6 separate regions of the Homo sapiens genome follow, and regions 1, 2, 4, 5 and 6 are each reported to be linked to region 3. Evidence: microRNA targets listed by miRTarBase, many of them from high-throughput screens and not tested one by one. Region 3 holds a microRNA gene; each other region holds the end of a gene's coding sequence.
What was found. Region 3 holds the annotated microRNA hsa-miR-4659a-3p (UUUCUUCUUAGACAUGGCAACG, at 3,219-3,240, opposite strand). A microRNA usually pairs through its seed, bases 2 to 8, with sites in the 3' UTR of a target mRNA and lowers its output. Matches are read on the target gene's strand: a 7mer-m8 pairs with bases 2 to 8, a 7mer-A1 pairs with bases 2 to 7 and ends in A, and an 8mer does both.

Region 1: miRTarBase lists MAFG as a target of hsa-miR-4659a-3p. Seed matches in the 3' UTR shown: 7mer-A1 at 1,561-1,567 and 7mer-A1 at 3,179-3,185.
Region 2: the mRNA of YOD1 is a reported target of hsa-miR-4659a-3p. Seed matches in the 3' UTR shown: 8mer at 3,964-3,971 and 8mer at 3,857-3,864.
Region 4: the mRNA of METTL15 is a reported target of hsa-miR-4659a-3p. Seed matches in the 3' UTR shown: 7mer-A1 at 2,762-2,768.
Region 5: miRTarBase lists SH3TC2 as a target of hsa-miR-4659a-3p. Seed matches in the 3' UTR shown: 7mer-m8 at 4,389-4,395, 7mer-m8 at 4,386-4,392 and 8mer at 325-332.
Region 6: the mRNA of TMCO1 is a reported target of hsa-miR-4659a-3p. Seed matches in the 3' UTR shown: 8mer at 1,349-1,356.

The regions. Positions count from the first base shown.
Region 1 is chr17:81,917,871-81,923,298 of GRCh38, reverse strand. It overlaps MAFG (MAF bZIP transcription factor G), which reads left to right. Exons shown (of 3, transcript NM_002359.4): 2 at 85-149; 3 at 242-5,029. The coding sequence starts at 114. The coding sequence ends at 694. It overlaps SIRT7 (sirtuin 7), which reads left to right and starts at 5,123. Exons shown (of 10, transcript NM_016538.3): 1 at 5,123-5,260; 2 at 5,332-5,428. The coding sequence starts at 5,168. It overlaps MAFG-AS1 (MAFG antisense RNA 1), which reads right to left and starts at 400. Exons shown (of 3, transcript NR_186500.1): 1 at 67-400. RefSeq lists enhancers at 1-390, 4,874-4,923, 5,042-5,428 and a silencer at 5,054-5,428.
Region 2 is chr1:207,044,727-207,049,726 of GRCh38, forward strand. It overlaps YOD1 (YOD1 deubiquitinase), which reads right to left. Exons shown (of 2, transcript NM_018566.4): 2 at 1-4,997. The coding sequence ends at 4,294. It also overlaps a transcript of PFKFB2 not described here. Among named protein-coding and RNA genes, the nearest start is that of YOD1, 4.0 kb to the right of the region's middle.
Region 3 is chr8:6,743,024-6,748,451 of GRCh38, reverse strand. It overlaps MIR4659A (microRNA 4659a), which reads right to left and starts at 3,288; the gene lies at 3,208-3,288. It overlaps AGPAT5 (1-acylglycerol-3-phosphate O-acyltransferase 5), which reads right to left. Exons shown (of 8, transcript NM_018361.5): 6 at 624-782. MIR4659B (microRNA 4659b) reads left to right here and starts at 3,212; the gene lies at 3,212-3,284. RefSeq lists enhancers at 1-127, 1,050-1,344, 1,946-1,995, 3,608-3,687, 3,718-3,997 and a silencer at 2,136-2,185.
Region 4 is chr11:28,330,368-28,335,722 of GRCh38, reverse strand. METTL15 (methyltransferase 15, mitochondrial 12S rRNA N4-cytidine) reads right to left here. Exons shown (of 7, transcript NM_001113528.2): 7 at 2,216-5,327. The coding sequence ends at 4,882. Among named protein-coding and RNA genes, the nearest start is that of MIR8068, 140 kb to the left of the region's middle.
Region 5 is chr5:149,000,196-149,005,623 of GRCh38, forward strand. SH3TC2 (SH3 domain and tetratricopeptide repeats 2) reads right to left here. Exons shown (of 17, transcript NM_024577.4): 17 at 1-4,707. The coding sequence ends at 4,516. Among named protein-coding and RNA genes, the nearest start is that of MIR584, 59 kb to the right of the region's middle.
Region 6 is chr1:165,723,625-165,729,007 of GRCh38, reverse strand. It overlaps TMCO1 (transmembrane and coiled-coil domains 1), which reads left to right. Exons shown (of 7, transcript NM_019026.6): 7 at 887-2,213. The coding sequence ends at 985. Among named protein-coding and RNA genes, the nearest start is that of ALDH9A1, 28 kb to the right of the region's middle.

The DNA.
Region 1 (5,428 bases), not on the chromosome of region 3:
CTCTTGTGAACTGGGCCGGGGGCGGGGGGGGGGGGGTGCGGCGAGGGTGGTCTCCAGGGTACTGACCTGCTCCGTGTCTTGCAGAGAGCGCCTGCTCGCTGTGCCCCCGGGTTATGACGACCCCCAATAAAGGAAACAAGGCCTTGAAGGTGAGTGGGCAGGGACAGGAGCCTGTGGGCTGGGGTCGGGGGGCACAGTGGGCGTGCCCGCTTGGCCTGTGACCACCTGCACTGTGCCCCAGGTGAAGCGGGAGCCGGGTGAGAATGGCACCAGCCTGACGGATGAGGAGCTGGTGACCATGTCGGTGCGGGAGCTGAACCAGCACCTGCGGGGCCTGTCCAAGGAGGAGATCGTCCAGCTGAAGCAGCGCCGGCGCACGCTCAAGAACCGCGGCTACGCTGCCAGCTGCCGCGTGAAGCGGGTGACGCAGAAGGAGGAGCTGGAGAAGCAGAAGGCGGAGCTGCAGCAGGAGGTGGAGAAGCTGGCCTCAGAGAACGCCAGCATGAAGCTGGAGCTCGACGCGCTGCGCTCCAAGTACGAGGCGCTGCAGACCTTCGCCCGGACGGTGGCCCGCAGCCCCGTGGCGCCAGCCCGGGGCCCCCTTGCCGCCGGCCTGGGGCCCCTCGTCCCAGGCAAGGTGGCCGCCACCAGCGTCATCACAATAGTAAAGTCCAAGACGGATGCCCGATCGTAGGGACGCGCGTCTGCCCAGGCGGGTCTTTGCGGGGCCACTAGGCACATGGCGAATTTGGCTGCCCTGTCCCTCTGTTTCCTTCTCTTCTCTTTCCTCCCTCTCTTCCCCACCCTTCTCTCTTCCCTGCAAAGCACAACCTGTACCCCAGGGGCGCCGGGCTGAGCCCCTTTGATCTCGTCATTGTCGTCGTGTGTTTTGTATGTTGGGATTGGTCAGTTCGGCGGTGACGTGGGGTCGCCCCAACCCCTTTTGTACCAGGGCCATGCAGGCTTGGAGTCCAGAGTTGGTGCTGTGGGAACGGACTAGAGAGAGTTGCGGGAGAGAGAAGGAGCAGGCACGCTGGGCCTCGCGTGTCCCCGAGCAGTGAGGGTCCCAGTGTTCCCTCCACTCCCGAGTGGCCACAGGCTCGCGGGCTGGGAAGGATTCACTCTCTTTAGCCCCAGGGGAGCAGCTCAGCTTAGCCCAGCATGAAGAGATGGGCTCTGCTCTGAGAGTAGGGCGGGCTTGAAGGCCCTGATGGGTGGACCACCAGCCTGGGCGCAGTGGTGCTGGGGGCGTGCAGCTGGGCCCAGGGGCTGTGCACTCAGGCCTGACCCGTTGCACTGAACAAGACCAAATCTCTGGTTGTGCGCTTAACGTGAGGGTGGGTCCAGTGTGCCCTGCGATGGGTCCCGTGTCACTGTTTACATGACCTATTTGTGTGGTTATATAGCCCTTTATTTAAAAGAGAGAAGTTCCTTTTACAAAGTTATTAAATTAATTATATGTTTAAAAGTTAAAGAAAAAAGAGCTGCAGAGTATTTATAAAACTGTCTTTTAGAAAAAAAACAAGCAAGAAGACCATTTGACCATATGAATGGAAAAGGGAAGAAAGTATAATAGAAACTTTGCTAGTTAAAAAAAAAAGAAAAAAAAAGAAAAAAAATCCCTTTCTTGTAAACTTACGGACACCTCTTTGTGGCTGTTGGAGTTTAGTTTTTATATACACAGAGTTATCAGACATTATTTATAAAACTTAGTTTAAAAAAAAGACAAAAAAAAAAAAGCCAAGCCGTGAGCCGACCAGAAGGCCGTCCTCTTTGATATCTTTTGCAATTGTACCGAAAGTGACTTACTCCTCTGCCCTTCCTGCTTCCGTCTCTTGCCGGTGCCGTGGTGTCGTCCGTGCCTGGTGAGGTTTTGTGCAGCGGTAAAGTGCTGGTGCTTCTGGTGACCTTTGACCTGTGGGTGTCACTTCTTGTGTCTGTTTTCCCGTGTTCGTTTTTTGGGTTTAGTTGTGCTTTTGCTTCTGCTGGCTTGCTGGACCTGGGCTGGGGTGCCAAGTGGCGCCTGCTGCGTCAGAGCTCAAGGAATCTGTGCCCACCACCAGCTCCTGGTCCGTAGGAGGTGAGACATGGGGTTCTGTCATGCCCCCCTCCACTGAGCCTTGGCTACATCTGTGTCTAGGGCTTGGGCTGATCTAGTGGCGGGGTAGGTGAAACTGGGGTCCCTTGGGGCGCCCCACGCTGCTTCCACACCCACCACCTCTGGCCTTGGGTGGTGGCATTACAGGGATGAGGGAGTCACTGTGGGTGGCCACAGGGCTATGGCCAAGCGTTCCCTGGCCGTCTTCCTCTGGCCTCAGCTTTGTTCCTATAGGCTGCCCGCGCCGTGGGCTGCAGGTCTCGCCGCCCGCTTGATCCCTGAGGTGTTTCCATGCTGCGGGTGGTGCTTCCAGGCAGAGTGGGTGGGGGCCCACCGGGCACCGCCCTTTCTTCCTTGTCCCTGCCTCACTCTGAGAGCCTTGGGGGTCTCCACCAGTGCAGACAAGGGCTACAGTCTCCAGGGCCGGGTCTTGTCCCTCTTCTCCGCTGGTCCACGCTGGCAGCTCTTGGCTTCGGGCCTGCCTTCTGCCTCCCTTTGGGATCTGTGTCTTCCAGGGATCAGCTGCTTGGCTTCTGCTGGAGGTGCCTCCCTGTGGGGGCGCAGCCTGCCTCCTGCTCTCAGTTCCTCGCCAGAGGCTGCTGCCCTTCCTGGCTGGGCTCAGGAGGCTCCTTGTAGGCATATGATGGGGAGGGGGTGCCCCTACCCACCTCCAAGAGGCTACAGCCCTGTGTCTGGCCATGTGAGCCCTGGCCTTTCACCGGGTTGCTGGTTTCTTTTCTGTGGGGCCCAGACTTCTGTAAAGCACACAGATGTGGGTAAGATGAAAAACTGTGGCCCAACAGGGCTTAACCCTATGGATGGTGGGATTTTTATCCAATAGTTTGGCCTGGTGTGCCCACAGGATGGGAACAGGGAGGCACCATCAACACTTGTCATGTTAATGAGCTTTTCTTTGCTCGAGGTGTTCAGAGACAAGTCCTGTGTCTACCTGCGTCAGCCTGAAAATGGAAATATTGGCTGTTGACTCTTGTCATTTAGTGACTTCATCCCCCTCCCCTCAGTCTGATCTTGTCTAAGTAGAATCCAGGCGTTAGTTGGAATCATATCATAAGTATCCATGAAGAAAACGTCATGATCTGCCTCGGAGTGGGGAGAAACAGGCCCTCCTTGTCCTTGTGCAGCCCCCACTTTTGTCCTGGCTGTGGGTGGCCATCCATTTTGAGCACCTCTGCCAGGCTGCAGACCTGGAGGCGAAGGGAGTGTGGAAGAGGAGGGTGTAAGGGTCGACGCGTGCTGAATGGGAGGTGCAGGTCCTCGGTGCGTTGGCAGAAGAGGCTTCTGGAGTTTCGAGGCCATACCTCCTTTCAAGAGCTTTGGATTTGGGGCGACTTCCCTGGGTCTAGGGGAGTGTTCCTGTCCCCTGTCAGGTCAGCCCTGCGGAGCCACTCCACCCCTCTTCCCCTTCCCCTGGATTTCCTGACATAGATGGTGTGTTCATGTGCAGGTGTGAGTGTGCTGTCCTTCTGATCTCTGTTGATCCCGCTTTCCTACTGAGAGGGTGGTGGAGAGGGTGGTGGTCTCTTCTCACCTCAGTTTTTCTGACACAGCGAATCGAGGGCTTTGGCCAAGGCCAGGTCTCTCAAACTTGTCCGCCAAGTAAACCATGATATATGTCTTCCCTTCCACCTTAACTTTGCCCCAACTCCTCTTTTATCCTAACATGGACGCTCAGATTTCAGAGGAATACCCAGCAGGGACAGGTCAGCTCTCACCAGGAGAGTGAGGCCCCTGGCTGCTGCTCGGGGTGGCACTGGTGTTGCTGGCTCAGCTCTTGGTGCATGTTTCAGATATGTGTGTACACTTCTGACTGGTGATCAGGGCCCGGCCCACGGCCCTGAGCGGCTGCAGCCTGCTTTGGGACGATGGTCAGGTCCCATGTTGTCCCTGCTGCCTCCCTCTGGAGTGGCCACTTGGCCAAAGCGCCCATCCACATCTGGAAAGTCGGAGCCGCAGCCTGCTGCACCGTTTCCGCTCTGGGATCTTGTGAGTTACTTTTTTAGGCTGTGGTTTGGTGAAAGGAACCAACACATTAACGATTTTTCCCCCAGAAGCCACTGAATAATTCTTTTTGGTGTATTTTTGCCTTCCTGTTGGCTGTCTGGCCTTGGAGCAGGTCGGGAGAGTAGAGTACATAATCAGTGCCACACAGAGGCAGGGCGTGTCTGAGAGACTAATGCCTGTCCTGCCTCTGGCCTGTGTCCTGGGTGTGTACCATACCTGCTGGGCCAGTCCCACACATTTCCACCCTGCCCCTGGAGCAGCAGCTTTGATACCATGGGTGTCCCTTGAGTCTGAGCTAGAGTGTGTCCCCGATAAACTGTGAGACCTCCCTGTTCTTGGTGACCCCAGTTGGGCTTTGGCCCCTCCAGCAACCTTGTGTCCCAGCCCTGCCCTTCTTCCCACCCCCTCAATCTGCTAGTCCCTGAAGCCTTTAACCAAACGGGAGTGGGCACAGAAAGCCTTCTCCTGGCAACAGGACAAGGGCTGCCCGCGTGTCCAGCCCTGTTGCTCTCCTGGCGCTGAGAGGTGGGTCCAAGCAGAGTTGATCAGTCCCTGCCTGCCCTGCCTAGGTCTAGCCAGGGGAGGTTGTGTGTGTGGGAGAAGACCCCGGGATCTGCTGGGGTGGGATGGAGGTTATTAAAGATCTAAGTGAGGAGGGGCTGGGGTTTGGATGCGGGGTGAGGCCCGAGCGCTCACACTTCGTGTAGGGCGGGCAGGGGCCTGACCTCTTGCAGGGCAGTGGCCTTGGTGCCCTACCCCTGCCCTGCGCAGTATTTATTGCTAAATTATTGTCCAGGAGGGGCAGCACTGGGCCTGGCCCCCCGGGTATTTATTGCTGTACATAGTGTATGTTTGTGATATATAAGGTTTTCTTTATTTTGTATATGATCAATAAACCTTTTAAAGAGACTGGCAGGTGCTTCTTTGGGGCGACGCGGCGGGCGGAGCCGGAAGGGGTGGGTGGGGGCGGGGCCCATCTTGCGCATGCGCCCTGAGCGCGGCCTGCCGTGTGAGGCGGAAGCGGAAGAGCAGGTCTCCAGGGGAGCGATGGCAGCCGGGGGTCTGAGCCGCTCCGAGCGCAAAGCGGCGGAGCGGGTCCGGAGGTTGCGGGAGGAGCAGCAGAGGGAGCGCCTCCGCCAGGTACGCCGCCGCCGCTCCCCGGCCCGGCCATGCCCGGCCCGCGCCGCCGCTCACCGTCCGCCTGCCCGCAGGTGTCGCGCATCCTGAGGAAGGCGGCGGCGGAGCGCAGCGCCGAGGAGGGCCGGCTGCTGGCCGAGAGCGCGGACCTGGTAACGGAGCTGCAGGGCC
Region 2 (5,000 bases), not on the chromosome of region 3:
AAAATGTTTGGAAAAGGGTAATTCATGACTAGGAATGCATCTATTTGACAATCTCTTCTTTATCAGTGGTACTTTGTCTTCTTGGCCCTTTTCTCCCTTCACTCTACCATGAGGGGGTTACCAACCTCCTTTAAATGTGTATGAATCAAGACCTAAATCAGCACCCTACAATTCAACATCAATAATAATTTTAAGTCAAACATTCAAAGCACTGTAAGCAAAATGCTAGATAATTTTGAGAAAAATAAACACTCTCCCACAACCAGGGACACTTAATATTCTTTTTATGTGGAATGAAATGTGCTGAAATACTGTAACATAAGAAAACAGCTTTAGTTTATAAACTAGCTTATTCAAATCAAGTGTTTCACTTTGGACTTAAAATGATGCCACTTGTATATGACACGTTTAAGGCCTCTGACTCAAAAATCAGCTTCCTTATAAGTCTGCTTGGAAACAAGTTTTAAGGATCGAATCTTTTAGAAATTATCAGTCATCTCTGCACTACAAGGACAAATTTGAATACTGCATTGTATAATAATACAAGATATTCACATAATAATAAGTAACATTTTTAATGCTAGGGCACAGACCATGCTCCTAATAGTTACTGAAATTGAGTTCTACTGTTATCAAAACACCAGAATGTTGTGCCAATAGATACACTCTACACTGATGGCAATCTTTGATTAAGAAGAGCTGATGGTTAGTAGCTCAAGAATTGTACTTTAATGTCCTTAATTAGATCCCTAGAGGGCCAACATGTAAACTTTTATTCCATATATATTTTTTAAAGTGCTGCAAACAAATGTGTCTCCACACATGAAAGAACATAATTCTTAGTATGTTTAGGAAGGCCACCTGATTTGTCAAAAAAAAAAAAAAATCACTCTTGCTTAATCTTGCATACTTCCCATTCCATTTTTTTTCCCAAAAAGATGTAAGAAAACTATGTTTAGCTTAGGGCAACTTGCAACACCCACGTTTTAATCCCTCCACAGAAGGAATAAACTAGAGAAGCAAGTTAGGCATGGGCATTTAGGGACACAGACAAATTAGATAGATAACATAATGTTAGTTAATTCCTCATTATTATTTTGCTGGGACTTCATGGAATAATCAAGCGGCATGACTACATTAGTTGTTAAAAACAGGGTCAAACTGACCAGCAGTCAAGCGTCAAGGGTACCACTTGACTATGCTAATTTCATGGGAAACAATGAAGAAATCAACCATGAACCATTAGCAAAAGATGGAACACACTAATGTCTTCACTTGGCTAACACATCACAAAATTTCCAGGTATGTTAAATTTTAGCTTCTGAAATCACTTTATTCAGGAGTGAATCTTCATAGTACTACACCTGACCTTTAATCCAAAGAAAAGTAAGAGAAAGGAAGAAGGGTGGGGTGGGAAAGTGAGGTCTTTATTCACTTTGCCACTAATATAAACTGTCATTTTAATTTTTAAAAAAATTCCTCTATGGCAGGCAAAAACTCAATGAATAGGAAAGATTTCATTCTGCTCTAGTACAAAACTTAAGACATTTAATCCTCCTGAAAGTTGTAAGTCCATAGATTTTCAAAATTCCCAAGATGAGAATTTACTCCCTTTAATAACTAATTCCAAGAGTTTAATAAGCACAGTAAAAAATGAAAAAACAAACAAACAAAAAGCAAACCCCTGTAAATTCTGTGAGGCTTAAAAGCTTGAGTTTAGAATGAGCAAAGGTTTAGGTTTTTAATCCTCAATAATTAAATCAGATGGTCCACAAATAAAGCTTCACCTTGAATTTTCCAGGATCAGAACACTAAAGTACTAGTGCTAAATTTCAGCAGACTAAAGAGTCATTTTTGAAAGGAATTTGACAGAGTATCAGTGTCCAACCGGTAAATGGACAACCTAGATAACAGATAAAATACAATGAAATAAGATCCCCTGAATAAATACTTGACACTTAATATGTAAACAAAGCCCTTACAATGAAGGGGTTTAATTCTGTAAAATATCAGTGTTCTATTCCTTTCCATTTGTTAAATTTACCCACTGTAGAAAATATATACTGAATATAAAGTGACAGAAACTTATGTTGGAACATATCAAAACATATGACAGAAACATATCAAAACATGCCTGGCACAGTATAAATTACTCAATAAATATTTGTTGCACGAATAAACTTCTAGATCTAAAGCTGTAGTAAGCAAATGTCAACTCTGTGTCCTGAAGTAGCAAAGAAAGGAAGGCAAGCTTTCTGAGTAATGATGCATAAAGCTCAATTTGATAATTGTTATCTAGTGGTATATTCTTAATTTACAGTTTTAAATTTAGTATTTTCTGGGAGAAGTAAAAAAGATACAAAACCAAAACCATCCAGATCAGATGAGAGTCAGGTGTGGAGAGATTTTCAATCCCATTAATTTGAACACATTATGATTGCCAAACATTAAGTATCATAAGCTCATCAGTGCTATTTTTAAGGCTCAGTAAAATAGAAAACTAAACACTTTTAAGTTATGCTGACCATAACAGCTTATATTGTCTAAAATAACTATGCACACAAAAGGTACTCAAGAAATGTCATCTGACAATTTCAAACAAACTTTGTGAATTGTTCCTTAAAAGTTCTTTTCTCTTATATTGTTCAAATGTTCCTTAATTTTATATGGCCACCTTCACCAAGTGAAAGTGCTAAAAATAAATGTCAATTTTAAAACATTTGCTAGGCAGATATGCTGAAAAAGATCCAAGTGCTTTAAAGTATACCACTGAATTTCTAAGTGAGATACTTAATAAAAAAGAGACCAAAATAACAAAACTTCACATTAAGCCTCTTCACATTATGTGAGATAATACATAACAAATTATAATTTAGCATCCCTGATCAGAATAATTAAGAAAAGAGGTAGAAAACTTTTATCTGGAAGATCTTGTAGTGAAGCTAAGTTTTAGAGGGTGTGCCTTGCGGATTAGTCCACTAAGCAAATGGCTACACATCTAGTACTAGGAAGAAGCAGAATTCTGAGAAAGCTGCATAAGGCAAGGATTTACAATTTTTTCTATTTTGGAAGTGAAACTAGTTCATTCAACAGTATTACTCCAATTGCTTTAAAACTTCAAAAATCAAAGTAAAAGATTGCAGATAAGCAAAGTGCTAATTTGCAGAAATGTGAAATTATTTAAAATAACTTTAGTGGAGGGATAAGGCTAGCACAAAAGCAAACACTCTTTAGGTGTGCAAAAAATCTTACAAAAACCAACCCAAAGCAGAGCATTATTACTTGAAAAAAATTTTTTGGAGGAAGTGCTCTTAACAAAAAGCTGAGAAAATTAAATTCCCCCCGATAAACTTTACGCAAATGAAGAAAAAACTGAGGACTCGAATTTCAAGGAATTTCAATTAAAAAAGTACCCTGCTTAACTTTAAAATGTTATCCAATGTGACAAAGACCAATACATGAATTGCATTAAAACACGAGGCCAACGGTCTTTTAAAGCTTCAGGAAGCTGCTCAGGCACCTATTCCCTCATACATTCTACGTTTTATATGCTAGAGATCTTAAACAGGGCACAATCAGTTCCTGTTTTGTGATAACATTCTCAAGGATGAGACTCATCCCTGTAAAAATTGCTTGTGATGTACTTATCAGTGGTTAAGCACACATTTATAATGTCTACCAAATTGCAATATAAAATCAGTTTGGACAATTCTGAGTATCTTCATTTGATGAATCAATTCATAATTTAGAAACTTAACTCATTCAGAGTTTTTAAAAAGACTCAGTTACTGGAGACACTGTGGTAAATGTCCAGTGGACTCACAGGAGGCCTTCCACATTACCCAAAATGTGATGCTTTCTTCTACAAGTTAAAGCTGCTGGGTGCTAGTTTATAATACTCAATCTCAATCGTATGCCCAGTGGACTCACAGGAGGCCTTCCACATTACCCAAAATGTGATGCTTTCTTCTACAAGTTAAAGCTGCTGGGTGCTAGTTTATAATACTCAATCTCAACCTTCAGGTCAGTGTCAGTAGGTGGCAAGGATCACCTATTCTGTCACTCCAGCAGAAAGAGGCATGTATGTACAGTTTACCACTGTAGACACACATCTGTAAACTTGCACACTAATTTTAATCTTAACAAGGAATTTCAGTGTCTTAGTGGTTTTAAGTTAAAAGGATGGTTCAAGCATTGTATCCTTTGTTCTTTAGGGTTACCATAGCTTATTGGAAAACCCAGAGCCTTCTGGATGTGTGAGGTAGTAGGCTTCAACCCTCATTCATGCATAGGTCACACTTCTCCAAAGTTGGTATGGCCTGTCTCCTTGGCATGTTCCCTTGCTTCTGCTTGTCCAGTTAATCCTTTCTGACATACCATGCATCTCAGGGTGAAGCGGTTGACATCAGTAAACTGTCTCCTTCTTCTAGCTTCATCTGCTAATTCCAGTGCTTGTACAAGAACAATATCATCATTAGAGGAGAAAATGGTCAGAGGAGGTGTATCTGGATCAGGGAAGTTACGCTGAAGTGGATCATAGTGGATGCCATCATAAATAAGCAGAACCCTTTTGGTATATCCTGCATCTTCCCCAAAACGATCAATTCTTACTGTCTGTGTATCCACTACACATATTTCACATTGGTAAAACTTGGACAAAATCGATATCTCTATTGCTCCTCCCCAAGTGTCATCCCTTTTGATCCAGTCACAGTACTCTTGATTTGTTTTTCCCAGTATTGCCTCACTATAGAAGTCTGGATCGCTTGCTACAATTTGTGCTATGAGGCGTCTCATCTCAGGGGCACAAGCTGGATTCAAGACTCCTCCTTCGACGACATAGTACACACTAGTAAAGAGGCAAGAGTTGTCTGCTGGGACCACGGTTCTGGTAAGCACAGGCAAAGTTTCCCTGACGTAACTAGAAGCACCACGTTTAGTAAATGCAGGTGAACTTCTGGGCCTGGTTTGGTCTTCTTCAATGATCAGCATGTCACCTG
Region 3 (5,428 bases):
TATTTTGAAAAGGAAACAGAAACTCCACACACTTCCCTGTTTGCCTATTTCCATGTTTACATTTCTCTAACAGCTAACACTATGTTTGGTTAGTTTAACTAAGTTATCCTGCTCACTTAAAATTCTATTTTTTTCTGGTTATATCTGACAATAGCTCAAAGGTTCTTAAAACCTAACATGTTTGGGGAAAAAAAAAGGTCACACTTAACTGCATTTCTTCTTGTCACAATGACACCCAAATTTAATAAATATTTTACGAAAAATACAGCAAAAGGGCAGCACTGACTAATAACGTGCACTCAGTACTGCCGGGCGTGCTCCTTCTTCACGTCTTCCTCCCTTTTACAGAGCTTTCCTTTTAAGTGTGAACTTTGAGTAGAAAGAGGCTGGATTAATGATAATTGGTGAGTCCACAGGACTCACACGACAGCCAAGAAATACCACACTTTGCAGGACTAATGAAATCTCCACTGTTACATCTTAATAACATCTTGAAAAATATACCGGGTAAATGTAATGAAGGAAAAAAGTACACTTAACCTACTTTGTAAAACTGAATTCTACATAAACATGTGCACTGTATATACCGTGTACAGGCATTTCAGGTGCGTGAACACACTTACCCGTCATGGTCGGTGACTCTCTTCGCTGCCCTCCATCGTCTTTCCCTTCATAAACCACCGTAACATCATAAATTGCATCTAAATAATTCTTCATGCAATCAAAAGCAACGTGAGTTGCCTTTATTCGTGGTGTTAGCACATGTTTTAATACTGCAAGGCCTAGAAGTCAATTCAGTGCCGTCATTAATTAGTTACAAAACACCTCCACAATATACTGTTTAACATCTAAATTATTTTTAAATTCCCTCAAACACACACAACAGAATCTATTAATTCCACAACCTCATATATTTAGGGCTCTAAGTTTAGAAAGCACTCTCACTTGCCTTTTTCTGTTTAAATCAATATTCATTTGCTATATATTGATCAAATATCTACATGTACAAGTCACCGTGTTGGAAGTTTATGGCCTAGCGGAAACGCTTCAATCTAGTAGACCCCGGCAAGGGTAAATATTAGTGCCCTCGCTTCTGGCCACTGAACAAAGGTGATAGCATCTTGCCCATGGTGACTCAAGATTTCCTAGAAATACAGTCACACAGCACATGGCCTCCTGTTTCTGGCTTCTTTCGCTCAGCATGGATCTGAGGTTCATCTGTGTGGCTGCAGGACTCAGTGCTTCATTCCTTTTTATGGCTGAATAGTTAGTATTCCACTGTGTGAACAGATCACATTTTGTTTACCTATTAATTGCTTCATGGACATTTGGGTTGCATCCATACTTTGGCTATTATGAATAATGCTGCTATGAACATTCATAGGAATTGCATATGAAGGCTGCAGGTGAACAAGCTTTTGTATGAACATACGATTTCAATCCTCTTGGGTATATCTGACATATTTTTAAAAGGTTCTTTAGCTGGGGGACTACTGCAATTATCCAGAACAAATCCCATTCATTAGGTTCCTACTAGGGTTAAGGATTTGTTCTTCTCTCCTTCCTATTACCTCCCTTTTCCTTGATTAAAATATTTACTGACAATTTAACAGAAAACAGTAGCTCTCAATAAGTGACATGAAAATAGACTATAAAAAACTAGTCTAGATTTTCTACTGGCCTCTCTGGAGGGAAAGTAGCTGAGTAAGGAAGAACAGCTATTACATGGTGGGACTGTCCCACACAAGAGGTTTTAAAATGCAGGGTGGTGTGGGAAAGACAAAGATTCCCACAAGCACGTATCTGACTTTAGTCCCCAGGGCAGGGGCAGTTAAATTGATTCACAAACTTGCAACAAAAATCTCAATCGCACACCAAGCTGGGAAGCATTTATTTGTCAGTTAAACTAGTTAACACTTCCTTCTTTGCTACTGGAGCTCATCCAACTTTATGAAGTCCAAAGTTTCAAAATATCACTCTGTGGTGTTCACTAAAACAACTAATTACTGGCATCCAAGTAAGTTAGTAAGGAAATAAAGACAGAAAGCTAGTATTTTTAAAACATAAAAGGAAATGAATTATCATGAATGTTTTAAAAAAATAGCTTTGTGACTAGGCTTCTGCTCCAGAACGCGTAGATAAAGCCACACCATAACTAGAAGGGGAATGGCCAAGAGGAAGACATGCAGAGCATGCCTGCGTGCACCCACCTGCCATGCAAAGATAAGTGGAAGAGCAGGAGGCAGGGAAACAAAGAGAACACGGAGCCGGGCGCGGTGGCACGTGTATGTCTGTAGTCCTAACTACTCAGGAGGACTGCTTTAGCCTGGAAGTTGGGGAGTGGGGGAGAGAAGGAAGAGAGGGAGGGAGAAGAATGCAGAAAGAAAAGAGAGAGAGGAGAGAAAGCAAGCAAGCAAGAGAGAACGAGTGAGGGAAGGAAGAAAGGGAGGGAGGGAAAGAAAAGAAGGAAGGGAGAGAGAGCGAAAGAAAGAAGGAAGAAAGAAGGGGGAGAGAGAACATGAGTTCAAATTGGGCATACTGAGGCTGAAGGAACAAAACATTCTAGAAGTAGTTGGAAATATGGTCTGTAAAATGGCAAGAATCAACCGAAGCTAAGCATGTGGAAACCATGGGAATGGATAACTGAAGTAATGGCAGTGGCTGAGAATAATAAAGGGCAGAAGATGAAAAGGCAAGAAATACAGACTCCGGAAACATCCACATTAAAAAAAAAAAGGTAAAAATAATAACAGGGAATACGACAACCCAGGAAATAAAAAAAGGGGGGAAACCAATGTAATACAAAAACAAAGGGAAGAGATGTTTAAAGGAAGAGGAGGTGATATTTATCTTCAACAAGAAAAATTATACTCCATTGTTTATTTCTACAATAAAGTTAAAATTATTTCCTGGTTATAAAGGTATAAATAATGTCAAAAGTTATGTGAAAGTTAACAAATATGACAACTGACACAAATGATACGATGCTTTGGAGGTCAGTGGTTAAGTGAGAAGTGGGATTCATTTCTGGAGAGTGGATGGAGTCAAACACAAGAAAGCAAGGGGCCCAGACTTCTCTTTGCACAGCTATAGACTTAGTTATTTCAGAATTGGAGTACATTTGCAAGCTGGGAGAAACCCCTGCAGAGAAGTAAGGCAGATGACTGAGGCAACGATGGAGACAGGGTAGACGGAATCAAGAGCTTAGAAACTGTTGACGTTGCCATGTCTAAGAAGAAAATTTTTCTCCAAAGTTTTCTTCTTAGACATGGCAGCTTCAGCAGTTTCTTCCAAAGAAATCCAAGTCAAGAGACTCCACATTAAGATTTTGAAATCAAAAGGGATATTGGGTGCACTCTTTCCAGAGAAATATAACTTTCTGAAAGCAAAAAATCCTTGAATGTGAAGAGAACAAAAATCCGTGAAAACCATGAGGTAGTCAAAAGGAGAAAAATAAAAGAACTGCTCCACACAGACTTGGCTCGGCTGAAATGAAATGGCCTGGCTTGGCTGCAGAAGGCAGTCAGCATTGATCTTACGATGTTCTCCACTGCTAAGGAAGGGAGAAAACAAACAGGGTTGCCAAGGGCTGAGGAAAGGCAGGGCAGGAACAGAACAGCCCAGCACTGGGATGGGCAGACCCCGGGGCTGGGGCAGACAAGAGCTGCAGAAGGCCCTGCAAGCTGCAGAAGGGCCAAGGAAAGAGAGATTAGAAATCAGCCAAAAACACAGGTTTAGAGCGAGTGAGGAGGAGGGAGAACCAGAGTCAGCTATATGGTGTGGGCGAGCCAGTGCCATTTCCAGATGAACTTCAAGGTGGTAAAAGCAGAGCACTGGACCCAGCACAGGACCTCGAACCAAGCACAGGATCCCAGACCAAGCACAGGACCCCGAACCAAGCACAGGACCCCGTACAGGAGAACAAGATCCCCCCAAGCCTCCACAAAGGACTGCAGCCCTGCCAACACCTTGATTTCAGCTGAGTAAGACCCATTTCAGACTTCTCAAATGTAAGAGAAGAAATCTGTGGTGTTTTAAGCCACCAAGTTTGTGGCCCTGCCTGAGAGCAGCCACAGGGAGCAAACACACCTTCTTAAGAGCGAGAGTGCCGTTACCACACAAAGCTGAGCACTAGCTTTCTTGTTTGCTATGCTTTCTCAGAAGTTGGCTTCAAAGTATTCATTTAATTTCTACTTCTTTGATTATGAGAAAGAATAAACATTTGTTCAAGTGTGTGGGTCATTTGTATCTCTTGAATTTCTTATTCATGCCCTTTTCCCATTTTTCTAGTTTATGTCTTTTCTAATTATGAAGCACTTTTGTAATATTAAGTATATTAATATCCTATATTATAAAATATTATTAGCTTGCCATTTGCCAACTAAATTTGTTCATATGATGTTTGAGACATAAAAATAATTTTTATTCAGTTAAGTCTACAAAGAAAAAAATTGCTTTGTAGCTTATTCCCTTTGTTCTCCTGTTTTGAAAGAACTCTCAAATCTCTACAATCGCCAGTGTTATTCACCCTATGAATAACATGGAAATTCTAGGTATCTGGTTTGCCATTATAGACACATCATTAAATTTCTGTTTTCTTTTAAGAGAGTTCAAAAAGCTTAAGTATGTCACCTTCGCTAGCAACTATGGTTTTAACCATGGCAATTAAAAAAAAAAAACCACCATAGGGGCTTACTTTAATGGGTCCAGGTGGCAGATTAAGATACATTTAATTCCACATCCCTTATAACCATTAGAAAGCCAAATACCTAAAACAAGTCTAAGGAAAATTAGTTAAAACAAAACCCTTCGAACAGCTGAGAAAAGTTTAAATATTACCACAGTGCCTGCACTTCTGCAGGACCCCATCTGAACAGCTTCTTCCTCCATGTCTAAGTTTCCTATAAGAGGTATGCAACTGCTATCAATTTGTTCTTTTTGTGAATAAAACTTAGGCAAAAAAACTGAATGATGGAGTTACCAAGACAAGAAATATGAGTGTATGCATGGAAGGATAAATTCTATCTTCAATATGCTGAGTTTGAGACATCCTTTTGGGCCAGTCAAGCGAAGCTCTCTAATGGACAATTGTACAAATGGGTCCAGAGTTAGGCAGAGAGACATGGAGGGGAGGAAGCTTTTGCGAGTCATCAGCAGTCAAGGAAACGATGGCTAAAGCCATGGATTTAGAGGAAGGCCACCATGAGAAACAAAAAGTGAAATTAATCAAACACCAAAACCTGACACTGGAAATAACACATGTAGCAGGGAGAAATGAAGCAGAAAGAGGCTGGAAAGGAGGCTAGGAAGTAATCGCCAGAGAGTTGGGAGGATAATGGAGAACAGCCCCACAGAAGTCTAGGGAGAGAATTTCAAATCAGACCAAAACAAATTGAGGGCAGAGTGAGTACTGGAAAAAGTGCTTACA
Region 4 (5,355 bases), not on the chromosome of region 3:
AGAGGGAGGAACCAGGCTCTTTTTAACAACCAGCTCTCTGGGAATTGATACAGCAAAAACAATTGTTACTATGAGGACAGCATTAAGCCATTCATGAGGGACTCTCTCCCATGACCCGGACATCATTTATTAGGTACCACCTCTAACATTGGAGGTTAAATTTCAACATGAGATTTGGAGGGGTCAAATAAAGCATCTCCAAAATACAGCAGTGCATTATCTCATTTCATTCTTAGAACTTTCAGTTCATAAACATTTATCTTCTATTTGATTCACAGCAACATGAGAAAGTACCAATAATATCCACATCTTAAAATGAAACAAATGAGAATTCAAGAGATTAAATAGGATGTCCAAGTTCATACATTCAGTTATTACATGTAGATCCGGAATTCAAACCCTCGGTTTTCTGAGTCCCCAGCCAATAGCGTTATTCACAATACTATACGGTCTTCTCCTCAACTTAGCACCTATAAGACTTGAATAATAAGACTTTTCCTTGTGAAATTATGAGGAATCCTATCATTTGATGGCTTAATAATACAAATCTTCACCTGTGCAAGGCAGACAAGTGTTATTGCTCAAAGCATAAAGATGGGGTTTAACGAACAGAAATAATTATTCAAGAATCAAGTGGAGCATGTCCTCTTGTTTGATTTCACCTTTGTATTCTAACATTTGAGCAATGATATATTTAATAGGACAACAGCTAATAGTAGAAAACTTGTTCAGTATTTAAAGTAACATTACCAAAGACACAATCTCCTGCTGTGCATATTGAAATATTAAATTTTCTTTACTTTGTTGCCTAATAATTTGGGCAGATTATGAGAAGGAAGTGAGGTGGCCAAAAAGTCAGTGACAAGCATTATAAATTATGACCATTGTATGTTGTACAATTCTTCATTTTAAATGTTTTTAAAATTTTATGCTGCAACTAGACTTTAAAAAAATAATTTATATGTAAACTTTCTCTTAGCATTCCTGCAGATCATCCTGTGTTACCAAACATTAGTTGGATATAGTAGCTATAAACAGATAAGATTTGAGAAAATAATATAAAAATAGCTGTGTTTGTTATACAACCCAGCCTCTTTAGAATATAGGGTTGATTTTTACAAACCATACTTCAATCAACATCAAACATATGGCATTGTGGTTATGAGAAAAATATATCTTTGATCAGAGTTTCAAATTTATATTTATCAAGCACCTCACAAAATTCTCTTTATGTTTAAATGCTTATCCCTGTCTATTATAGAATGCTGCTACACAAAAATATCAATTAGGATACTGAAGCAATTATGAAAACTAAATAGAAAAATAATTGCAGTAAAATAAATTTTACAAAATTTTAACCAGAAGCAATTTTTAATTTAGTTTTTAATCTATTAAAAAGATTCTAATATGTAAGGCTTAGTTTGTCATGGTATGTGCCAAAATTACCTAATATTTCTTTTTCCAGAGATAAATTGAAACATAATTAATGTCACCTCAAATTTACATACCAATGTGAACAGAGAAGAAGGGATGGTATATAAAAAGAGGGAGAGTGGTGAAAAAGGTATTTTTTTATTTCTTCCTAAACAGTTAGCTTCTAATATACGCTTGAGTACATATATACATATATTTTTCTCTTTTTTTAGCCATTAAGTCCCATTAAGAACTGTCTCATACTTTTTGAATGACAGATTTCAAATGAAAGTAAAATTATTTTTTAAAAGTCTGCAGTACAGATTCATTATCTCTACTTCTTAAAAACAAAAATTAGAAACAAAAATTTTAAAAACCTTAGGTATGTAATACTCTGCAAAGACTTAAGAAAATATGATTTTCAAATATTTGCAAGTGAATTTTAAGAAATATTAGTTCATTTAAAAAATCTAATTAGGCATACTGTATTCTCTTATAAACTACTGCTTGTAGCACAACAAATAGTTTACTACAATGAATTTAAGCACAAATAATATATCATATACTACATGAAATAGAAAAGACATATAGATATAGTGTCTTTCAAGAACACCCCTAGAAACTTCAAAGAACATAGTAATTAATATACAATTTTAAAAATAAAATAAAAATAGGGATATTATCTAAAAATTGTAGTTATTAAATTTTATTTAAGTAATGAACTAAAAACTGTTAAGAACTGATGTACTACACAATGACATTGATACTATGTTAAAATGATTCATAGAAGGCAGTCAAGACAGAGATTCAGAAACATTTTATTAGAAAAGTAATGCGCATTCATAGTAACATTAGCTTTTATTTCTGTGTACTGTAGGAACTTCCCAAAACCATTCTCCAAAGCTAACCATTTAAAACTCATTCATGTATTTTATTATGCATCCTACAACAAAGACTAAGAAGCAGGCAAGAATTACTATAAAACACAATCTAATTACAGAAAAGTTAATTTATTTTTACATGAAAACATTTTGAAACCAATTTTGTGTTTATTGAAGGATTTTTCTCATGCATATTATCCAAGATTTTTTTCTGTCAGAGTATTAGCTTCCTAGGATTGCTGTAACAAATTACCATGAACTGGGTACCTTAAAACAGCAGAAATACATTCTCACTGTTCTGGATGCTAGATGTGCAAAACCATGTTAGCAGGGTTGGCAACTACTGGAACTCTGAGGGAGAATCTATTCCATGCTTTTTTCCTATCTTCTGAGGGTTCCCACAATGTATCACTCCAATCTCTGCCTCCAGCTTCATGTGGCATTCTCCCCTGTGTCTCTATCTTCTCTTTCTTCCTTTTTTTTTTTTTTTTTGAGACAGAGTCTCGTTCTGTTGCTCACACTGGAGTGCAGTGGTGTGATCTCGCAACCTCCACCTCCCAGGTTCGAGTGATTCTTGTGCCTCAGACTCCTGGGTAGCTGACATTACAAGCACCACGCATGGCTAATTTTATTTTTAGTAGAGATGGGTTTTCGCCATGTTGGCCAGGCTGGTCTTGAACTCCTCAGCCTCAAGCGATTTGCCTGGCTTGGCCTCCCACAGTGCTGGGATTACAGGCGTGAGCCACCATGCCCGCCCTATCTTCTCTTATAAGGAACACCAGTCATATTGGATTAAGGGCCTGCCCTGCTCCAGTATGACCTCATCTTAGCTACTTACAACCACAACCACAGTATTTCCAAATAAGGTCACATACTGAGGCTCCAGGAAGTACATGAATTTTGGAGAGGACACCATTCAACCCAGTACATTCAGTTTCTATTTAACATAAAAAATAATTCCCATACTATACAGGGTGAAAAAATGACTTATGAAATAGGTGAAAGATTGTTGAATATACAAATGTGATCTTTTCTTTTCCAATCACATACAGAGATAAGAATTTTTTGGGAATATGTCTCATTCACAAATATGTATTATATGCAAAGAGAAATTTATACAATGTTCAAGTAGGATTCAGGGAATTAACCTAGGTGCATTCTCTTGTTTCTATTTCAACCATATTGTTCTCCAGATTTTTTTCCTAATTCTGATTTCCCTGTAGGATTGTTCAGATTTAAATAAAGCCTGTAAAGCAGAAGTAGTGAACAAGCCTGGGTACTAAAGTTAAATATTACAGAGGCAGATAAAATAAGTCTGAGGAAAATTCATGCATTTAATTCTATCTATTTTGCCCACATAGTTATGCTGATATTTCATTCACTTGGATTCACCAACCTAAAATTTGTAACTATAATGGAGAATCTTTTTTCTGTATTTGAAAAAAGTGCACTGAGCAAATTAATAGTATAAATATGATTTCAAGGATAACTAAGAGAATATTTATTTCTATGTATGGTTAATCAACATGCCCCCTTCCATACTCCATGTGCCCTTTGACTAATTATCTCCAACTCATCTTTCAGGTCACAATTTAAGTATAAATAATAAATTAGAAGTACATATTACTATAAAAAATTGACATGTGAATTATGAATCAATCTCCTCAATTTGTTAAAGAATCTTCTACCAAGTACTCTTTTCTTGAATAAACTTTTACCCATATTACAGTTACCATATCTTTGTAACAACATTAAGGGAGCATTGATTTTACTATATTAAATAGACAGTTTTCTATTTCAAATAGACTTGGCTGAATTATTTTGATTAGCTCAATTAAAAAATACAAGATTCTAATAAGAGACTTTATTACTTACTAAAGGCATTGTGAGCTATTATTAAAATAAATACAATTGACATGAAATATAAGTTTTGTGAAACAATTCTCTGTAAGGATTTTACATTTTTACTTTGCGATAGATGAACAAAATGGCCCATATCATACTGAAAAATCCCTTTAAAATAATAGACTATAATTTGAAAGATGAAATTTTATCAGTATAACACACATTTAAACTAATATTTTAAAATTTAAAATTTGTAAAAAGCCTACATTTGAGAAAGCTAATTATTCACAAGTAGGGACATTAAAATTCATTCCATAATCATCATTATTTGAGCCACAGAAAGACTGATGCAAATTGGAATATCTAAATTCAAAATTTAGGACATGCAGATATGATTACAACATCTTTCTCTTTGGTAGCTTGAGTTTACGTATTTAGATAAACACAACACAGTATTATTTTTTAAAAAATTTCCTGGCCAGAGGAAGGATTGCCTTCAAGAGTCCAATATGATGCAAAGATTAACATATTTTTCCAGTCTGGAGGTGCTGCTGCTCCCTGAGTGTAACTTTCTCTGTCATGTATTTCCTACAGTTTCTTTTTGAGAAAAAAGAAATGCTAAATGCTATCAATTTTCAGACTGTCCCACACTTAAACCTATACCAAGACATTCAGGGACATAACATGAGTAAAGATTAGAGAAATTGTGAGAAAAAAATTTGAAGAATAAGATGATGATAACTTATAATTTGATAGCTGCTCTAAGCTTGGCTGAGCGCCCTCTGGGGTTATCTTGTACATCCTGATCTTGTGGACTAAGTACCTTCTTGTGTATCAATTCCCACATTAAAGGAGCTCTTCTCATAGAGACTTCTTCCGTGTTTTCGTGATCTGAACCCAATTGAGATGTTTTCATCACTTGTTGTCTAACACTTAGGTTAAATCTTTCTGTCATGCTTATTCCAAGCAAAAATCTTTTGACGATGCGATCCTCTAGTGAATGGAAGGAGAGGGCAACAAGACGACCACCAGGTCTCAGAAACTTCTGAGCTGTCTTCAGTCCCGTGTAGAGTTCATTGAGCTCATTGTTCACAAATATGCGAAGAGCCTGGAAAGTCTTGGTGGCAATATGGGTAGATCGCTGTAGTAAGTCTTTCCGTGTATAAATAGCAGAGGGAGGAAATGCTCCTAAAACAAATGTTGTAAAGATAGGAAA
Region 5 (5,428 bases), not on the chromosome of region 3:
TGTCACCCAGCTGAATCCCCACTTCCCTGAAATGTGTGCCCAAACCTGGCATTGAATGACACTGACCCTCCTCAGAAGGAGCTCAGTCCTCTTCCCTGCTTACTCCATTTCTCTGAGTGTGCAAGGAAAAAGTGGTTGTTGCTAGTCTGTCATCTACACTCTCTGCCACTTATTAATCTCTCTGTTTTCAAACAATGCCAGATAAGGCCTAGGCTGGGTGCTTGCAATGAGCAACAGGACCTAGCTTGAAGTTAATGCATTATTTTATTTTCATTGTATTTGCCATTATTTACATAATTCTGTTTATGGAAAACAATACAAGTTTTTCTTCTATATAGACTAGTCATCCCTTATAAAAATAAGTTAATATGAGTAAAAGAAGTAAATCAATTTAGAAAATGTTTTGTAAAGGCTCTTTGGTGCATATCGTGATAAATGCATGCATACATACACACACGTGTACATATACACACACAACTGTGAAGGAAGCCCTGAACAGCAGAAATCCTGTCATTTGTGCAACTAAGTCCTTGAGTCATGAGACCCCCGCCTCAAGTACCACTGTCTTTGCCACTAACTACCAATGTGTCTGGGAGAAAGTTACCCTTCTGTTCCTCAGTTTACTCACCTGTAAAAAGAAGATAATATAATTGAGCTATAAAAATATATTATTTCATCTCTCCAATACTATTTCTCATCCTATTCATACAGTATAAAAATAGCACTGCTGAAAAACCCAGAGGTGAGGTTCTTTTATCAGAGGACAAATATCTGAGATGTGTAGAGGTTAAGTGACTTGCCCAAGGTCGCACTGCAATTTAATATCAAAATCAAGACCAAAATACAGGTTCCCTTTAGTGATAGGCTTCCTGATCCCTCATCCTAACACCCTCCATTCCTGCATATTCCCTTCCCCAAATAAACTTCTGCCAAATGAGGTGCATTATATTTACAAAGAGGAAGAAAATGAACACACACACACACACATACATATATATACACATGCACAATATAAAGGCATCTTAAAATAATGGAAAAGCAAATAAGAAAAGGACAAAAGCAATATTGGATTTCAGAATGTTAATACTGTTGGACAGGGAACTAGTATACCTGAAAGCTGAGAAAACATGTTACAGGGTTTTCCACAATGTTGCAATGCCCTTCTTGTTCTTTATTTAGATTAGATGTAAGGAGCCAGCAGTCACACAGCCCATATAAGATTTGAGGGAACAATTAGAATAAAGAGGGTAACTAGATCATGTTTGGCTATGATACACTTATTTTTTTAAATGTTTAAGTAGAGACCAAATCCAATCACCACTTTACTCTCTGTGGATCATGAAAAAAAGACAGCATCAACATGTTTCCAAAGGGAATAGCTGGCCCACATTTCAAAAATGAAAATTTTAAACACTTTTTAAAAGAGTTTTAGCAAGCGGTTTACATATAGAATGTAGTAATTGCAATTATATAGCACAATGTTTTTCTTATTTTAAAAAAATAGTCTTACCCTTGTCTTTGGAAACATGCTAAACATTTTTATAACTGACCTGGTTATGGGTAAATTCATCAGATTTATAGGTAAATCAAAGTGCACAGAATTGGGAAATTTTAGCTAAAATTTCCAAGGAGATGTAACATGGATAGAAACAACGCTCTTCACGTATGTGTGTGTATGTGTATGCATATGCAAATGCATGTGCATATTTGCAGCAATTGAGAAAGATCTGTCCAAACAGAAGTTCAAGTCAGAAGACACAGAAGTTTCAACTGATTATAAAGCTCAATGGAAGCCAAGGACAGATGTGGCTGCTGGGGAGAGGAAGAATCAAATTAAGTATAGTAACATCCCTCTGTACTCTTCACCCACCGGCCAATATCAAAAGCCTCATGCAGTTGTGGGAACTGCTCTTTCAGAGAAACAGAAACAAATCTGGCCAGAGGAGAGTGAGTGGTCAGTGGGAAAAGGGAGGGGATCTGTAACCTGAGTCAGATGGGGAATGGCCAGTGGCATGGTTTCCAGGGCTGTGTGAGCCTTCTTCAAATACACGATATGTAACTGTTCTGGAATGTGTGTGCCCCTGACTGTCTCCCAGGAATGTTGTTGAAAGGACTATGCACGGGAGATTAGACTGAATAGCCTCAACCGCAACGTCCCTCCCAGCTTGGGGCTTTTACAGCTTGTGGTGGGGGCAAAACCACATCTATTCTCCATGGTAGTAGATTAGATAACTTTACTAATTAGACAACTGGAAGCTTCTCCTTCCTGGAGAATACTCTCTAGAGTAGACAGCCTTTTGACAACCAACCACATCTCTAAGAGAAAATGTGTGCCAATTAGTAGACAACCTTGATGACTAGAAGATGCAATGGCGGCTCAACTCACCACTCCCATCTCACCCTTTCATACAACCAATCATCTGGTCAGCCCAAGAAGCTAGAAATTAAGGGCAGATGGTCTGATAATAAAAGCTAAGCTGATGGGCATCAGATGCAGGGAATTATGGCTGGTATCCTTGTGGTTCACAGAAAAGGAGCAAGGGTGAACCACCTGCATCAGGCTTGCTTGAGTTGCTTTCTAAAAATGCATGTTCCTGGGATACATCCCAGATCTACTGAATCAGAATTATTAGAGATAGAAACCAAGAAGTTCATGTTCCACAACCTCACCAGGTAATAGTTATGCACACTATCTGAGGGCTCTTGCCCTGCAGTGGTGCTTCCCATACTTTAGGGTGCATTAAAATCACCAGGAAAGCTTGGACGAGTCAGCGTTCTGGGATCCAGAGATTCTGATTCAGAGATCATAGGTGGGGCCACAGATTTTCATTTCAAACAATCTCACAGGTGATGCTGATGCTGCTGGTTAGTGGACCATATTTTCAGTTTGCTGAAATTAGAGAATTCCCAATTTCATTATCAAAGAACTCAGATACTGTGGTAGGTCACTTCTGAAATGATCCCCAATGATTCCTCACCATCTGGTATTCAAGCTGTTGGTAAACACTCCCCTCTTGTGGGAGCTAGACCTAGTGACTCATTTATTATGAATTGAATAGGCAAGACTAAGGAGATGTCACTTCTGTGATCAGGTTATAGAAAGAGTCACTCCCTTTTCTCCTGCTCACTCTGGTTCTTGCTCCTCTTGTTTGCTCCCTCTAGTGAAGCATGGTGCCATGTTGTGACTGCCCTGTGGAGAGGCCCACGTGGCAAGTGGCTGCAGGAAGCCTCTGGCCAACAGCTAGCAAAAAACTGACTCCTAACAACAGCTGTGTGGGTGAGCTTGGAAGCCCATCCTTCTCTAGTTGAAGTTGAGATAACTGCAGCCCCAGCTGATTGCAGCCTGTGAACCACCCTAAGCTGGTGGGCTCAGCTAAGTCATGCTTGGATTCCTGCCCTTCAGAAACCATGAGATTATAAGTGTTTTAGGCCACTCAGTGTGCTATGCAGTGATGTTATTAATAGAGATGCTTTGTAAAGCAGCTGCCCTGAAATCAATAAGATGCCTTGTAGTTGGGTATGGCACATGCCTGTAGTTCCAGCTACTCAGGAGGTTGACACTGGAGGATCACTTGAGCCCCGGAGTCTGAGGTCGCAGGAAGCCCTGACTGTACCACTGAACTCCAGCCTGGGCAACAGAGGAGAAACTGTCTCAAAAAAAAAAAAAAAAAAAAAAGACATGTATTGGTATTCTCTCCCATCCATCAAGTCCTCCATCTCATCTGCCCCCATTGTGGATGAGACAAAATGTGTGTGTAAATGTAACTGGACAATATTTAATCATATACACTATTTACATGTAATTTATGTCATAATTTTCTTAACATTCAATTTCCAAGCCTTTGCTCTTGGAAAGCTTCCCTGGAGCTTCTGGGAGGTTATGTGGGAGCACAGCCTTATGGCAGGAGGAAGATGGTGAATCCAAGTCAGGTTTCGTGCAATCCATCTGGCCATTCTGAGGCTGTGTCTTTTGAGCTAAGATCCTGGTGAATTCTCTCCTGTCAATCCCTGTGAGCATGAGGAGTGATACATACTTTGGTTCTGAAGAAAGAAATGGAAAAAACTACAGGTTCCTCTGCTGGCAAGGGGAAGGGGTCTTTCCCTGAGAAAATCGGTGAAGAGCACAAATTCCAATCTGCTTGCCTTTGCACCAGTGCAGTGACTGATTTCCTCATTGGGGGAGGAAGGAAGGCTCCTGGAGGGCAAGATCCCTCATCTTCTCCAGAATTATGTATGGAGAAAGTGCTTTTCAGAGGCTGTTTGTGTGGAAGGCAACAGTCAACCGGTAAAGGCTCCAGATGCAAAGCCTGGAACCAGGAATTCTCATCGCTGCACCATCAAATCTTTCTGTGGCCTGCAATGAGCCCTTCTCCTCCTGGACTTCATTCTTCTTCTTGTGAAATGAGGGGGCTAGGCCAGGTAAGGACTCGGACCCTCCCAATGAGTATTTAAGAGCCTAGGGCAGTGGGGTCAGAGTCTGGCCATGCCAAATGTCCAGAGACAGGACAGCTTTCCTCAGAGGGCCAGGCCACCACCACTCAGCCACCGCGCCCTCTCTGAGGAGCACCCGGAGGGCCTGCTGTGCCACAGGGGGCTCTGGCAGATGTTGTCCAGCCTGCTCCTAATGGTGTCCTGAAGCTCCTCATCACCCAGCAGGACCGCTGCTGCCAGGGCCAGAAGGAAGTACTCAGTGGCATCATGGGCATCCTAACCCCGTGGTATGGGGGCAAAGAAGAGACAGCATTAGCAAACACTTCCAGGACAGGCTAGGAGGCTGTGCTGGCCACTCTAGTTTTTTTTGTTTGTTTGTTTGTTTGTTTGTTTGCCCAACATCCAATCCCCATCTCCTGAGTCCTTAGGGAGCCCCTCTCTCCCTCCACTGTGGTCCTTGGGACATTGCTAATCACAGTGCCCTGCACTCCAGGCACAGAGGTGGTCCCTTACTGAGGCTCAGCCAATCATGAAACATCATTGCCCTGGGCACAGTGCTTCAGGGATGTGTACATGACCCAAACTTGGCCTACATCTGCCACTCCCTGGGACTTTCCACTGTGTCTCAATAAGGAAAATAGTCCCTCTGAAGTGGCAGGTTCAGAGGTGGACTTGAACCTGCCAGTAGCTAGAAGGGGAAAAGGCCAAGAAACAAAGCAAAGTAGAAACATACAGAGTCAAGGAATACAATGAGAGGTGGGGAAATCCCTGATGATGATTGAGAAACAGGATCCAGAGCTATCTGCAGTTAAATTTGTAGCTCAGCCTTCACATTCTTTGAGCCAGTAAGTTGCCTTTTTTGCTTAAGGAAGTTTGAACTGAGTTTTTCCCTTTACAATCCGTGGAGTTCTTGGTTGACATGATCAGATCACACACTTTGTCCCTGAACCACTTACTGGGAGCTATGGGGCAGAGGCAAGATGGCTAGAGGGTGCTT
Region 6 (5,383 bases), not on the chromosome of region 3:
CACCCTCCCGAGTAGCTAGGACTACAGGTGTATGCCACAATGCCCAGCTAATTTTTGTATTTTTCTACTAAAAAGTAGAGATGGGGTTTTACCATGTTGTCCAAGCTCGTCTTGAACTCCTAGCCTCAAGTGATCTACCCACCTCAGCCTCCCAAAGTGCTGGGATTACAGGCGTGAGCCACCACACCCGGCCGAAACTGAAAATTATAGACAGTGCAGTAATGACAAATCCAGCCAGCAGACCCGTACTCAAAGAAAATGCCCATAAGAAATAGCTAATGAATATTCTTCATATGCTTCTTGTTAAAAAAATTATCTCCTTTTATGATTCTCTACTCGAAAAAAATCAACCACTTTCATTAGTAGACCAAGGTCTCATCAGGTAAGGAAGGCTTTTACTGTTCTATGATTTTCATTACATTGTAGGCCTTTTTAAAAAATAACATAGTGATTGCCAGGTGCGGTGACTCCCTCCTGTAATCCCAGCACTTTGGGAGGCCGAGGTGGGCAGATCATGAGGTCAGGAGATCGAGACCATCCTGGCTAACATGATGAAACCCTGTCTCTACTAAATATACAGAAAATTAGCCGGGTGTGGTGGCGGGCACCTGTAGTCCCAGCTACTCGGGAGGCTGAGGCAGGAGAATGACGTGAACCTGGGAGGCAGAGCTTGCAGTGAGCCAAGATTGCTCCACTGCACTCCAGCCTGGGTGACAGAGCGAGACTCCATCTCAAAAAAAAAAAAAAGTGATAATCATCCTATTGCAGGTCATAATGGTTCCTTTAATCTATATGAGTATGAGTTCCCTTTGCCTGAGAGCTACATAAAACACATCTTCTGTATATTTGATATTAAAACCCAATCCTTACTGTGCTTTCTTCACAGAACATTCAGAAGATTCTCGGCCTTGCCCCTTCACGAGCCGCCACCAAGCAGGCAGGTGGATTTCTTGGCCCACCACCTCCTTCTGGGAAGTTCTCTTGAACTCAAGAACTCTTTATTTTCTATCATTCTTTCTAGACACACACACATCAGACTGGCAACTGTTTTGTAGCAAGAGCCATAGGTAGCCTTACTACTTGGGCCTCTTTCTAGTTTTGAATTATTTCTAAGCCTTTTGGGTATGATTAGAGTGAAAATGGCAGCCAGCAAACTTGATAGTGCTTTTGGTCCTAGATGATTTTTATCAAATAAGTGGATTGATTAGTTAAGTTCAGGTAATGTTTATGTAATGAAAAACAAATAGCATCCTTCTTGTTTCATTTACATAAGTATTTTCTGTGGGACCGACTCTCAAGGCACTGTGTATGCCCTGCAAGTTGGCTGTCTATGAGCATTTAGAGATTTAGAAGAAAAATTTAGTTTGTTTAACCCTTGTAACTGTTTGTTTTGTTGTTGTTTTTTTTTCAAGCCAAATACATGACATAAGATCAATAAAGAGGCCAAATTTTTAGCTGTTTTATGTACAAGGAGAGATCTGTTTCATTTTGTTTTGCCGTATTTCTAGATATAAGTTTTAGCATGGGCCAGGAAGGACTAAAATAAAAGTTTTTAAGGTACTGTACTTTTTGCCATACTTGACTCATATACTCAAAATACAGAGTTGTCTTGGTGTAGGAATTGGAAAGCAAGAGTGGAAAGGAACGTAATAACTCGTTGGAGTTTAAAAATGAGGGTCTTGGCAAGTAACACTGATGTCTGAAAAAAAATTAAATATAAATAAATAAATAAAAATGAGGGTCCTCAGCTGTTCTCTTCATATCCTATTACAGTCTCTCAGATTCTTGTGGGGGCACTCTTAGATCTCCCTTGGAGACAAGGTTATAGTTATATGTTGTTAATCTCGCAGAGCTTCCTTTTAGTCACAATAGCCTTCATTTTCTGCCATGCCCCTTCATAAGGGAGAAGGATGTTTGTACCATGATCCTCCCCGCATAATCTATGGAATTAGGAGTCCTGTGTGGAGTCTTATCAATAAATATGCACATTCATCAAATGTCTACTTAAATGTGAGTATTCTACCAGTGAGAAAAAACACATAATTTTCAAGGTAATCATTGTTAAACCAACAGCAAACTTCTTTCTTATCAGCACCATAAAGTCCAGAAGACAGTAGAAAAGTATCTTCAAAGTGCTGAGGAAAATAAGTATCAACTTAGAATTTTATGTACAATATTGGAGGCAAAATAAAGACATGTTTAGACATACAAAACTAAGAGAGTTGAATTATTAAAGGTTATATTCCAAGGACAAAAAAGAGGATCTGCCCAAGGTGAAGGTATGGCATACAAGAAACAATGGTCAACAGAGAAATAAAATATATGGATGAATATATGGATAAATTTGAGTGTTTTATGGATTATCTAATTTAAGGATTATCCCAAGACAGCCCTACAAGGTAATTACTGTTCTTACCTTCATTTAACAGATGAGGAAACTGGGGCAGGGGAGGTTAGTAACTTGCTCTGCATCACAGAGCTATTGAGTGGCAGTCAGGATTTGAATTCAACCAGTGTAAAGCCTAATAGTCCAGGCTGTCAAGCTCTATATTACAGCCTCCTCATGGGTATGTGGTGATTCTCTTCTCATCCCATCTCCTCAACTAGAGTGTGTGAGCTCTCTAAAGTTGGACTTTGTCTTTTTTTTTGTTCTCCTTATTACAAAGTAGTCAACGTGGGTGGAAACACAGCAGGAGCTCAATAAAAGCAGATGAAAGGGAACAGAAGTCCCTATTCTGAGACTAGTTTTATCAGAAGGATGTCTGATAATGGATGGTAATGACTTTTAATGGTCTTTTCTCCATATCATTGACCACTCTAAGCAAAATAATAATTCGAATGATAATGAAGAAAATGATGCCCATGATAACAATAATGACAAATATGAAATGGCTAAAATAAAACATGAAACCATCCTCAAAATTCTGCCATCACCTTTTTAAAGTGAGAATATATAGCACACTCTATCACTCATACCCTGAGGCTTTGAAGTTGGTGCTTTCTAATCAGACTTCTTATGGACCAGGTTTTCATATACAAATTATGTTTCCATGGTAAGGAATAAATAAGAGGGAGAAGTTAAAAAGGAGAGATTACATCTATTCACCCTATTCATTAAAATTTTTTTAAATTTTTTTCCAAATATGTTCTGCTTATGTATATTCACTCTATTCTTAAAAGCACAATAACAAAGATATATTACAGAGGAAATAAAACTATCACAAGAATTAAATTCAAGGAGTTATTAAGGGCTACTGCAGCCTCACAATTAGTTTTTTAAAATTTCTTGTCCTGAAGAAATTTCAAGACTAGTTATTTGGATGACACTCTAGGTCCACAGCATCACCAGATCATTGGAGATGACATTTCAAGACAGGCCTCTGAACATCTCTCATAACACATAATTTGGTTATTTTCCCTATGTAAGATGGATTGTCTCCTGTCTAGGGAAGAAAAACAGCCATTACTAATATCTGCATTAGTCTACTCAGGTTGCAATCATAATATGCTAAAGTAGTAAACTTTTAAAAATGACAGTAAACCTGAGTTTATTAACAGGTTACATTCTAAAAGCTAAGCTAGTTTGGAAATTGGAAAGCAAATGTGTGTAGATATTCATATGTCCTTGACCAGACTGGGCCTTTCTCTTCCCAGGTAAGTCATTCTCTCCAATGGGGCCAGTTACTTAAAATTACATCAGACAATTGATAGAGCTTCTAGATCCCCCTTCTAAAACAAAAGCATTTTGCCACAAACTAGGATGGAGTAGGTTTTTTTCAGACTATTTATACTTATTTTATGTATTTCAATACTGCCCTTTAAGTAAAAGTACTATATACTTTCTCTTTTTTTAGATTAATTCTGCTTAAGTCAGTCTTTTAATTTATTCTAGTTTGAGTTTTTAAAAAATTTTAGAATGAAAAATCTCAAAAATATACTATTATGTATATACACTATTTTATATATATATATATATATATATAGAGAGAGAGAGAGAGAGAGAGAGAGAGAGAGAGAGAGAAAGAGAGAATAAAGAACACCTAGGTAACCCATCCTCCACCTTCGACAATTATCAGCTCCTAGCTAATTTGTGTCATCTGTAACCCCACCTGCTTCTGCCCTTTCTGTATTATTTTGAAGCAAATCTTATCATTTATCTGTAAATATTTCAGGACTTTAAAAAATATGTGTAATCTGAATACCATTTTTACACCTAAGAAAATGGACAATTCCTTAATATAATGTGTTGTCTATAGATGTCAAAAATTTTTGCAGTTTTTTGGAATCAGGAACCAAGTAAGGTACTGAATATTGCAGTTAGCTGATACACATCCTAAATTTCTTCAATTGTTGTGGTCCTCAAACTAGAGTGTATCAGAATCACTAGAGCCTTGTTAGAACACAAACTGCTGGGCCCCACCCCAGAGCTGGTGATCTGTAAGTCTGCTGTGGAGTCTGGGAATTTGCATCTCTAACAAATTCCCAGGTGATGCTGAAGCTGCAGGTTTGGGGTTCACTCACCTATTGGTTCATCAGCATCTCTCTGCCCTCTTACAATATATTTGTTGAAGAAGTTGTGTTGTTTACCTTGTAGAGTTTTTCTTAGTTTGGATTTTGGTGATAGCATGCTGGTTTTTTCATACTATTGGTTGTCTCTGTAATGCGAGCAGCTTTTGATCTATTAATTAATGAGATATTAAAAGTGATGGTATTCTAATTGTAGTATTCCTTCATTTATGATCTAAAATACCTCTAAATAGGAACTTCCTCTCATCTACTTTTTGGGGGAAGTTAAGAATAAATGCCTAACTCCTTGGTCTTCAAAATAATGAGCTGTTTATTAACATCCTCCAATAGTGAATAATTAATGTGTATGTCATTAGCAATTCATGCATTTAAACATATTTGATGTACTTCAGTCCACTGAAGCTATTTCTCTTATGAATGCTCAAATTGTCCCATTTTTGGCCAGCGAGAGCCTCTTTCATTTGGCTCCTGAGTCTATTTGCATGACCCTCGTTGTCATTGGTAGCATCCTTGCTAAGTGATATAACAAGATGTTCTAAGGCTCATCTTGTGTATTTCCTGCATGACTTGAAAACAACAATTTCTCCAAAGAGGCTTGTTTCATCTTTACTGGAAAATGGCATTTGGAGATTGTGATCAGAGCACTAGGAATGGTGAGACTGGGTTTTTAGGTTTCTAGGCCTTTCTGTGGACTAACATTGGTATTATTTGTTGTTGTTTTAATACAAAATACAACATGAAGTTATACTGATACTCAGGGCTACAGAATTTTTACTTAATTTCTTTGGTCTGTGTCTCGTTTATCAAACCATACTAAGAATTCCAATTTGCAGCAGCCGGCTGATATAATTAGAAT